Linked DNA regions of Homo sapiens: region 1 is linked to region 2. Evidence: fine-mapped expression QTL. A gene starts in region 2. The other region holds a variant in brackets. All regions are shown on one strand. Distances are between the middles of the regions.

Region 1 (5,376 bases), 43 kb before region 2:
GGTGATATGGAATGTAGATTTAATAAGATTTAAAGTTAGCTTCCTAGAAGAGATAATGATAAATAGCAGGCATCTTTGTCTTTTTTTTTTTTCCTGATTTTAGAAAGATTGTTTCTGACACTTTTACCATTAAAAATAATATTTAGTTTTTGGTAGATAGATAGATGATAGATGGGAAATTTCCTCCTATTCCTCTTTGCAAATAACTTCTATCATAAACGAGTATTTGATTTTATCAAATACTTTTTCTGCATTAATTGAAACATTTCTCCATTAATCCTTTAGTGTGATGAAATATGTTAACAGATTTTTCTGATGATGCACTGATTTTTCTGATAACCCTTTTATTCCTAGGGTTAACCCAATTTGTCATACTGCATTTTTAATAAGTTGCTTGATTTGATGTGTTAACACTTTGTTTAAGATTTAACATTTTCATATACATGAAGTGAAATTGGCTTATAATTTTCCTATCTGCCACTGGCCTTGACTGGGTGGATTATCAAGAAAATACCAGCCTTATAAAATGAGTTGAGGACTATTTCCTCTTTTTGCATCCTCTGGGACACTTTATATACAATTGGCCTTACCTGTTACTTGAAGGTTTGATAGAATTTTCCTCTAAAACTATTGGGCCATTGGTGGGTTTTGTTTGGCTTTTTGTTGTTGTTTGTGAGCAGATTTTAAACTCCTGATGCATTTACTATAATCATTATAAGACTTTGCAGTCTTTTCATTTTCATTTTAGTCAGTTTAATACATTATATTTTTCTAGGAAAAATTTTCCTTTTATGCTGTCTTAAAATGTACTGTCATAAAGCTTTTTGTAGTATTTAAATAACTTTAATATTATTCCACCTTTATTATATCTATAATCATGTCCCTCTTTTCATTTCTTTTTTTTTTTTTTTAATTTTTTTGGCAGCCTCAACCTCCTGGGCTTCTTTTGCTTAATTCTCTCTGTACATATAGCTAATTGATCCTACGCTTATGAGTAGCCTTTTAGTATAAGTTTCCATAAGGACAACCCCATCGGGCAATTTCTCAATTCTTCTCTCTTTCTTGGAGCCAGACTTTGTAGACACCTTTACTTTCTTTCTCTTTCGAGACTTGCTTCACAGCTGTCCTGGCTGAGGATTCCCTTTGCCTTTCTTCTGATAGGATTCTCTTTTTCAGTATCTCACATTTTCCTTATTTTGTTTGAGCACCCCTTCCGGCATTTCTTTCAGATTGAAAATGTGGTACAAGGACAGGGGACAGGGTGATGGGCAGTTCTCAGCGTGCCAGTGTCCTGTGCCACACCTGTTTTCTGACTGCGTTCCGCTGTTGTTGTGCTCATATTATCCTTAAGAATCTCCATGCCCTCATGGAGACCCTCTTCACTCTTCTCCTTCGTCACCCTTCCCGTTTTTTCCATCCCCGTTCTCTTTCTTAGTTTCGTCTCTAATTTTGATAGAGAACATCCTCCATTGCTTGAGAGGTAAATGTTTTGAGATCTTGCTGAAATTATCTTTCTTCTGCCCTCGCCCCTGATTGGTAGCTTGGCAGAGGATTGTAGAATTCTAGATGGAAAATCATTGTCCCTCAGAATTGCCTTCTTGCATCCAGTGTTGCTGTTGAGAAATCTGAAGCCACCTTATTCCTGATCCTTTGTATATAATCTGTTTTTTTTGTTGTTGTTTTTTGTTTTTTGTTTTCTGGAAGCTTTAGGATCTTTTCTTTTTCTCTACTGAAGTGAAATTTCATAATATTGCGCCTTTGTATAGGTCTGTTTTCATAGATTGAGCTGGGGCCTTTAAACCTGAAAACATATGACCTTCAGTTCTGGGAAAATTTCTTGAGTCATCTTTATGGGTAGTTCCTTTCAACCATTTTCTGTTTGCTCTTTCTAGAAACTCCTGTGATTCAGATGCGTTTTTCCAGGACCGTTATTATGATTTTGTTTTCTCTTTCTTTCTCCATTTCTTTCTAATTTTGTTCTACTGTCTGGGAGGGTTTCTCAGTCCTAGCTTCCAGCCTTTCTACTGCTATCATGTTTGTTAATTTCCGACAGGATTTTTTTGTTGTTGTTTCTGTTATTGGTTTCTGAATGCTCCTCGTTTTATAGCCTCATGTTTTTGTTCATGGATACAACATCCTTTTTTCTCAACGTCTTCTTAGATTTTCAACAAGGCAAAATAGGGTGTAAGGGCCCTTGTGACTGAATTTTTAAGTGTTTTTAATTCCCTGCTTTGCTTCTCTTTCCTCTAGGTCTTTGTCAGTGATGTTTGTTTCTCTTCTCCTATTTTGCTGCCTTCCACCTTAGGGCTTGTGTCAGATGTCTAGCAATTCTTGATCATCTTCTCATGATCAAGTATGAGGGACTAGAAAGCTTATTGGAAGCTCTGAGTGACAGTGCTTGTTGACTTTGAGTGCCTATAGAATGATCTTTGGGTGCCATGTGATAGGAAGCCCTTCCTGTAGGTTTTAGGTCTTTTCTCTTGGTGGTCAGATTTATTATCTGTGCTTGGTGCTTCACAGGCAGAAGACTTGTTGGCTTCTTCAGAATGAAAACCTCCAGCGAGCTGCGGAGAGAGGGAAGGGACAGTTGCCTAGGTGCACAAAATGGAGAAGATGATCTGGAGATCCGCCTGCTTCTTCTTTTTTTTTTTTTTTTTCCGGAGACGGAGTCTCACTCTGTTGCCAGGCTGGAGTGCAGTGGCACGATCTCAGCTCACTGCAACCTCTGCCTACCGGGTTCAAGCGATTCTCCTGCCTCAGCCTCCTGAGCAGCTGGGACTACAGACGCCCATCACCACGCCTGGCTAGTTTTTGGATTTTTGGTAGAGACAGGGTTTCACCATGTTGGCCAGGATGGTCTCGATCTCCTGACCCCGTGATCCACCCACCTCGGCCTCCCAAAGTGCTGGGATTACAGGCGTGAGCCACCGCACCCAACCCTGACTGCTTCTTAAACAGACTTTCAACCAAATCTTTTTTAAGTAACTCTCACATAGACTTTCA[C/G]CACCGCCACTCCCACTTACAGCTCATGAGCCTTACAGGATTCTATGGTGTAAACTGTGGCTTCTCTGCTTTCCCTGCTGCTAACTTAGATTCCACTTTTTTGAGTCTGCTAAGATAGTTACCATTCAACCATCTGTTCTCTGCTTCCGAAATATTTGCTCTTTTCCCCCCATTTTGTTCTCTTTATCTTCGTGGGTTGATGTCTTTTAAAAATCTCTTTATATATAATTTTGATTTGCATTTGAGAGTTAAATTGCATGCTTATTCTGCCACGTTTTTTCTACCACCTTTTCATTTTGAAATTGTTCACACCTAGTAAAAACTTGGGGGAAAATATCTACAATAAACACCTGTAGTCCTTCATCTAGATTCATCAGTGCTAAAATTTTGCAACATTTTCTATCTATTTACTGAATCATTTGAAAGCAAGTTCAGAATCACAATATTTTATCTCTAAATATTTCAACATTCAGCCCCTAAGAATAAGGACATTGTCTTATACAACAATCACACCATTATCACAGCTAAGAATATTAACGTTATTGTACACAATATCATGTAGTATCAGTACATTTTTAAATTGTATTACTTGTCTCCAAAAAGCCTTTTACAGCTTTTTTTTTTTTAAATTCCTGATCCAGTATTCAGTGTTCATACATTTCATTTACTTTTTGTCCCTTTAATTAAAAAAAAAAAAATCTAGAACAGACTGGGCATGGTGGCTCACACCTGTAATCCCAGCACTTTGGGAGGCCAAGGCGGTGGATCACTTGAGGTCAGGAGTTCGAGACCAGCCTGGCCAACATGGTGAAACTCCCACTCTACTAAAAATACAAAAATTTGCTGGGTGTGGTGGCAGGCTCCTGTAGTCCCAGCTACTCGGGAGGCTGAGGCAGGAGAATCTCTTCAGCCTGGGAGGCAGAGGTTGCAGTGAGCTGAGATCCTGCCACTGCACTCCAGCCTGGGCAACAGAGTGAGGTTCTGTCTCAAAAAAAGAAAAAAAAATCTAGAACAAATTATCCAATGCTCACTTTTCATTGTTTTCTATAACATTGCCTTTTTAGAAAAAATTTATTGTTTTTGGATAGTTATATTTAGGTTGACCATTTCAGGCAAGAATACTACTTGGGTGATTTGGTGTACTTTTTATTACATTATACCAGGGGATACATACTATCAGGCTATCATATTATTGGTGATGCTAAGTTAAACCTTTTGATTAAGGTAGCGACTACCAGATCTCCCCATTGTAAAGGAACATTTTCCCTTTATAAGTAATTATTAATATTCGAGACAGTGTAATTATCCTAGTTTTCAACAGCTTTTTGTACAGTGGTTTTAGCATCCACTGACAGTGCTTACCTAAATCATCCATTACACTGGGGTTGCAAAATGGTGATTTTGTAATTCTATCAATACCTATACATTTATTACATGGCTGTTGAAATAAGACCTTTTCCTCTTCCTTTTTCTCCTTCCTTCCTTCCTTCCTTCCTTCTTTATCTCTCTCTCTCTCTCTCCCTCTCTCTCTAGTATCATTATGGACTCATAAATCTTTTCCTATAAACATGTTAAAGTCTATTACCATCATTATACTGTATATGTTCTCACTGTCTTGGATTTGAGCAGTGGGAGCCCCTTCACTCCAGTTCCTGGGTCCTTTTGATGTAACATCTTTTGTCTTCGAGCACTTCTTTGTTTTCTGGCATAGTAATATGTTCTAGGTTTACCTTTGGACTTCCCCTGAACTCATGTGGAAGCATCAGTTTCTCCAAAAAACCCTAATTCTTTTTAGTAGGGAATGGAATTTAGAAACCAAGATTTGAGAGCTATGTGTTCTCATTGCTACTGAAATGTTATTGCTTCTAGACTCAAGATCTCAGCAGTTAGAGCTAGAAAATACCTGTACCTGAACCTCTTTCTATAATTATGCCTATGCCAATACATATTTCTGTATACTAGTGGGGTCACACAGATACCTCAAATCCAACAGCTCTGGGTTCTTCCTCATGCTTCTCCTTTTCCATATTTGTATCTCCTTTTTCCAACAGTGAAAACCTTAGTTTACCAAAACATCAATATGTTTACACATTTACCCTTCCCTACAGTATATGTACAAATAGTTTTATAATTACAATGCCAGTACCACTACCAAACAGTCAGTCTAAGTAAAGCTCATGATTTCTTTGCCATTCTTTTTCCTCCCTCTATATTCTTCTAAGGGTGTACAACCAAACTACATTGACTCAAAATTACTTCATAAATTAATTCTTTTCTCTTGGTAGAGGTAATCAGTTTAACATACAGTTAAATTCATTTGTTTTGCTTTGTATTCAGTGTTAGGATTTTCTTTTCTTCTCATTGATTTTAAAT
Region 2 (5,376 bases):
TGCGTCTCGGACAGGCTGAGGGCCGTGGCCAGCTCCACTCGTTCTGGCGTGGACAGGTAGCGCTGGATCTCGAACCTCTTCTCCAAGCCCGAGAGCTGCGAGTCAGAGAAAACCGTGCGGGCTTTGCGGCGGCGGCAGTGCTTCCCCGGCAGCTCCGCGTGCTGCGGGTGCGGGAACAGCGCTGGGACTGGCATCCCTGCAGAGAGAAGAGCAACCAAGTGGGCAGAGCGTGGGTCGCCGGAGAGCAATCTCCGCTCCGCTCCCCTCCCCTCCCCTAGCCCCCAGTGCCTTCCTCCGCCCCTCGCCTCCGTCAGTCTGCTCGCCCCAAAGCCCCTCAAGCCTTTCTCTCAGGAATCCAGGGCAGAGGAAGAAAAAAAAAAAAAGCCGCAAGAATAGCGCTTGGAGATCTTTATCTGGAAAGTCATCTAGAAATACAAACAACAAACAGTAAATAAAACAGAAAAGAAAATCGGAAAATAGATCCGGAGGCTGTTTAAAAATGTCTTCTTGGAGAGACTTCCGTAGGGTCGGCCAGCGCGGAGTCTTCAGTTGCGCCTGGCCAAGTTTTTTGCAAACGTCAAATGGCCCAGGAGCAGTCCTGTCCCCAGCCCCCACCTATCCTCCTAGACCCCTGATGACACTCATTGCTGTTCTGGGGCTGGTAGATGCATGGATATAATCTTGCCTCCAAACCTTACTGAAAAATACCTTTCTGTTTCCCAAGCCACCCCTATCCCCCTGCAGCCAAAGGGAGAGCAAAACTGCCTTATCCGGAGAAGCCCCGGAGCCGAAACAGAGGAGCATTTCTCGCCTCTCACGTCTCCTCGTCCGTTTCGGGGTCGCGCTAGGGACCCAGCTACCTAATATAGTCCTCATTCTTTTTCTCATTCTTTCCCTCTCACTCCAAGCCCAGCGAAGCAGAAGGGTTTGAGGGGTTTTTCCATGGCCGGGTCCGGGGAGACTTGTCTTTCCTGACCCTCGCAGGCTTGACTCTGTCTGAGACGCACCAAGCAGAGAGAAGCTGCCACAAGCAACATCGGCCAATCCCAGAGAAAATAAACAAACATAACAACAACCAGTGCGGGTACTTAGGGCTTTGGCCACTGCTGTATGGGAGGACCACCGGAGCAGCTGAGAATAGATTGTCACCGGCGGGTGGTGAAGCCAGTGCAGAGATGCGGACCTGGATTTACAAACACTTTTAGCTTTGTTCTGGATTCCAGCGCGCACAAACTGCCTCCTGTCTTGCCCCCAGCCCCTCCACCGACCATGGTTGTTGCCGCCTCTGAGCTATGAGTCTGGACTCAACGAATTATTCTATTCTGGCTAGATTGAAAACGCCAGAGAAAAAACCATGGATGTGGCCTTTCAGAGGGAGACAGAAAAAAATCGGAGTATTTCCCCACATCCTCCTGTCCCAAACAGACTTTGCTAGCCCTTGCTTTTTGTCAGACCAGAGAAATCAAAATACTTTAGCACCCGGCTCCAGCAATGCTGGCAGCTGGGGCAGAGGAGGGTAGCCCAGACTAAGATTGTGAGTTAAATGTTAGATGTTGAGGATGCGGAGGGTTAAAGAGCTGCATCTCCCCCTACCCCCCTTTTTTCTCACCCTTTCTGTCTTATTCAGGCTAGCCCAAACCTTCATTCACTTCTATGCCCCCAGCGGTATCTGCAAATGCTCAGTGCCTGGAAAAAAGAGATCTGGCCTGGACAGAGTGTTTTGAGTTTCTGTGCAGAAAAAGTTGTGTCCATGGGGTGGGATGGTCAAGGGTCTCCCTCTGAGTGGGCAGAGGCGGAGAATCAGGATTGAGAGATGGACCAAAGTGGCCAGGAAGATCACGAGCAGGGACACTGAGCACTGCCTACCAAGAGTATCGTCAAACCCTATACGCTGCCTCTTGACCAGGCACCTATCCTCCGCTATGAAGAGTGCGGAGGAATCACGAATTATCCCCGTGGGTTGGCATGCCTCTAGGGAGCTCTGCATGGCCTCAGCAATATCCTCAGCCTTCCACTGTCACTTAGGGAAAGAGGCCACCAAGCCAGGCCGAGCCAGTCTGGCCTTTCCTTGACTCCATCACAGGCTTAGGGTCTGTGCTAGAAGCCCTGCTCTCTCACTGCCCATACCTTGAGGTTCCTGTTACTTACCCGAGGTGGTGAGGAAATAAGGATGATGGTGGTCTCCCTTATGCAGAGGGTGATGGGCGTGAGGAGCCAAGAGGGTGGGTGTGGGCATGAGGGGGTAGCCATAGTCTAGCAGAGGCACCCGAGAGGCCAGAGAGCTGGCGAAATGGTCTGGGGCCACCTCTCTCAGCGGCTTGGGCTTGTGCAGCAGGATGTCCTCGATGAAGAAGGATGTGGGCCTCTGAGAAGACGCCGGGTGTAGAGGAGAGGTGAAGTTGAGATTCATCTTGAGCGGAGCACCTGCCACAGGACAAGGGCCGGGACGAAGTGGAGGACGCAGGCAGAGTCTCCAAGCCTGCTCGAAAGCCGGCAACCACCCTCCGAGGCTCGAATCTCCGCTGCTCTCTCCCGGGCCTGGGCTACCCCGGGCGCTGGAGAGGCAAGAAGACAAGCTCCTGGGTAGGTTGGGTCTCTGTGTTGGAGAATTGGCAGCTTGGAGAGGGGGGCCGGGAGAGCCAATGACGAGGCTGCCAGAGGCAGAGGGGAGGGTGCGGGAGGCTCGGGGCGGGGCGGGGAGCTGTCCGCGGTGCTGAACACCACCGGCCGAGCCTGGGAACAACAGAGCCCGCAGGGTTCTTGTTCCTACCAGGTTTCTCGACCTCAATTTCTGCCCCGTCACTGCAGGGGCTGCTTTGTTCCCAGTCGTTTTTAAAAGAAAGCCAAAAGGAAAAAGTCTCTGTTGTCCGGCAAACTCCTCTTTACAGAGGAGAAGGCACTAAAAGGGCCCCAAAGCAATAATGGATAAAGCACTTATTCAGGCATTTAGGCCTGGGTTTTAAGAGTTTCCATAATTTTGGTGGCAAAAAAAGAAGGGAGGAAGTGAGGAGAAAGGGCATCTGATACTTCAGATTGCTAGATTCTACTTAAGTTTATGGCTGAGGGAAGACTGGATTATTAAGGTAAAGAAAGAAAATGATGATGGTCATCACAACAGTCTTTACCTCAGTTATAGGCAGTGGGCAGGAGGAGGGTTATGTCTACATTAGTCAAGTTATTTGGTCTGTGTAAATATGTCCAGAGTCACCTCTTAGTGCCATCCTCCATGTCGCCTCAAATCTTTGCTTTCTCCTCATTTCACTCACGCGGCTTGCTATTTCTGCTGTTACTCTTTCAACCCTAGCCCCCCGAATTAATTGTACTAGGTTTTTGTTTCCCACTCCTTTTCCCAGCCTGTTTCCTTTCATTTCCGTCCCTCCCAATCTTTTGTTTTTTTCTGTTTGTCTTTTTCTAATCTGTCACATTTATTTCCCTGGAGTCAATTTGCTAAAATTAGGGTGATCATCTACAACACAGCAGGGGTAATTTCAGCTCACATCTCTGAAAATTGCTCTAATTATTGATGTTAAACTCAGGGAAATTAGAAGAAGCCACTTCTCTCCCATCTCCCCATTTTTAAGCTCTAATTTGTTGAAATCTAGTCGTCATCACAATTCCAATCACTACTGCTAATAGTAAAAGTGTTTTAATAGAGACTGAGTCCTCACAACCCATGCTATTAGATAATTAGAGGAGGTGTTAGAAAGCCAAGTGCTAATCCTGGGGCGCATGGGTAGGATTTCCATCTGATCTAGCAGGTAGAACAAATTAATTACCAGAATCAATTAGGCCCCAAACTACAGTGCACCAGGAAGTGGGAGCATTCTATTCCATGAGGATGAACTGGTAAATGGTAAGTAGATGAAGAGCTTGAGAGGAAGGAGGAAGGGATGTGGGGGAGACTTTAAAATAAGATCTTGGCAAGTAGGCATCTAAATGAAATCAGAATGCTTTGATCTGAAGTCCAAAACGTGATTTTTAAAAAATTCTAATAGTAGTAAGAACTGAAGAGGCCCAGCGTGGTGGTTCGCGTCTGTAATCCTAGCACTTTGGGAGGCCGAGGCGGGAGGATTGCTTGAGCCCAGAAGTTCAAAACCACCCTGGGCAATATAGTGAGGCCCCATCTCAGAAAGAAAGAAAGAAAAAGAAAAAGAAAGAAAGAAAGGAGAAGGGAAGGGAAGAAGGAACGAAGGGAGAGAGAGAGGAAGGAAGGAAGGAAATAAAATATGTGTATAAAAGAAAAAGAAAGAAAGGAAAGAAAGAAAGAAAAGAAAAGAAAAGAAAAGAAAAGAAAAGAAAAGAAAAGAAGACCTGAAAGCAGGTGGCCGTGGAGAGCAAGACAATAGACTTTCCAAAAGTCCTTTCCTAGCGCTAAGCCCTGGCCCATCGTCCTCAGTCACCAGACGGAGGAGACTGGTGAGGAGGGGCCAGGGGTGTCGGTCCACACTTCACAGACGTCCACGTACACCCCCGCTTCCATTGTGAGCTTACAGCATCAGCAGAGTAGAAATCAAGCCGTTCTGTCTCTCCACCCTATAGGCCGAGTGGCTATCGAGGGCTGGACGGGTGTACAACCAGAGTGTGGCCTGTGCCTGAGGGCGCCCTACACTCCAGCCTCACACAGAGCGCAGATTTGCACCCAGCCTTGGGGGCGGGATTTCGGCTTCATTCTGGGGAGGGGACCAACTTCTGTCGCAGAAGCAGAAGTGATTATTGAATGTCCCTTTGAGAGCAGGGGCAGTAAAAACATCTTCGAGTGACAGTTACCTTTGAGCCAAGGCACTGCAACCACCCCGTCAGAACTTACACACCTCTCAGAGTGTTTGCGGGATCGGGAAGGGAGTGGGGGGCAATGTAGACCGCCTCCTCCGTCCTTATCTTTCCCTTGTTTCGTGAGCCCTGGACTCAGCGTCCTGCTTTCCCCCAAAGCTAAGGCAATCTCCCCAGGCCCTGCTCTCAGGCGGAGAAGCCAGGAGCGATGAGGGGCGGGGCGGCTCCCGGCGCCCTCTTTTCCAGCCCCGCTCCCGCGCTGCCGCCGGAGAGGGACTCGGGGCGCAGCCGCCCCGCCTCTGCCGGGGCCCCAGGAGGAATCTAAGAAAAGAGAGATGGAGGGAGGAAATGGCATCGCTTCAGGAAGGGGCAGGACCTCCAGGACCGAAGGCGTTTTCTTTCTCTTTCCTTTCAGCGACACTGGGAAACAAAGCTCCGCGGCTGAAAAGAACACCACGCGCGGCCAGGACCCGAGCAGGGCCCTGGGGCGCTAAGGGCGGGGAAAATAGGGCATCCGGAGTGCAGGAGATTCCTCAGGGCCGCCCCCTTCTCCGGGGGTGCCCTGAGGAACCGCGGCGGGGACTCGCCGCTGGCAGCCTGCGGGTC

Direction of the effects. Alleles are on the strand shown, and positions count from the first base shown. SD is a standard deviation of normalised expression in the study named.
In carriers of allele G in region 1, the expression in testis of the gene that starts at base 2,573 in region 2 tends to be higher than with C alone (large effect, 0.91 SD a copy in GTEx).

The links.
Region 1: its variant is fine-mapped to the expression of BSX in testis (GTEx, PIP 0.96).

Annotation. Positions count from the first base shown.
Region 1 is chr11:122,936,347-122,941,722 of GRCh38, forward strand. The region is part of intron 5 of JHY (junctional cadherin complex regulator); the gene reads left to right. Among named protein-coding and RNA genes, the nearest start is that of BSX, 43 kb to the right of the region's middle. The variant C/G (reference allele first, on the strand shown) is at 3,004.
Region 2 is chr11:122,979,262-122,984,637 of GRCh38, forward strand. It overlaps BSX (brain specific homeobox), which reads right to left and starts at 2,573. Exons shown (of 3, transcript NM_001098169.2): 1 at 2,149-2,573; 2 at 1-196. The coding sequence starts at 2,410. RefSeq lists enhancers at 1-35, 1,879-2,381.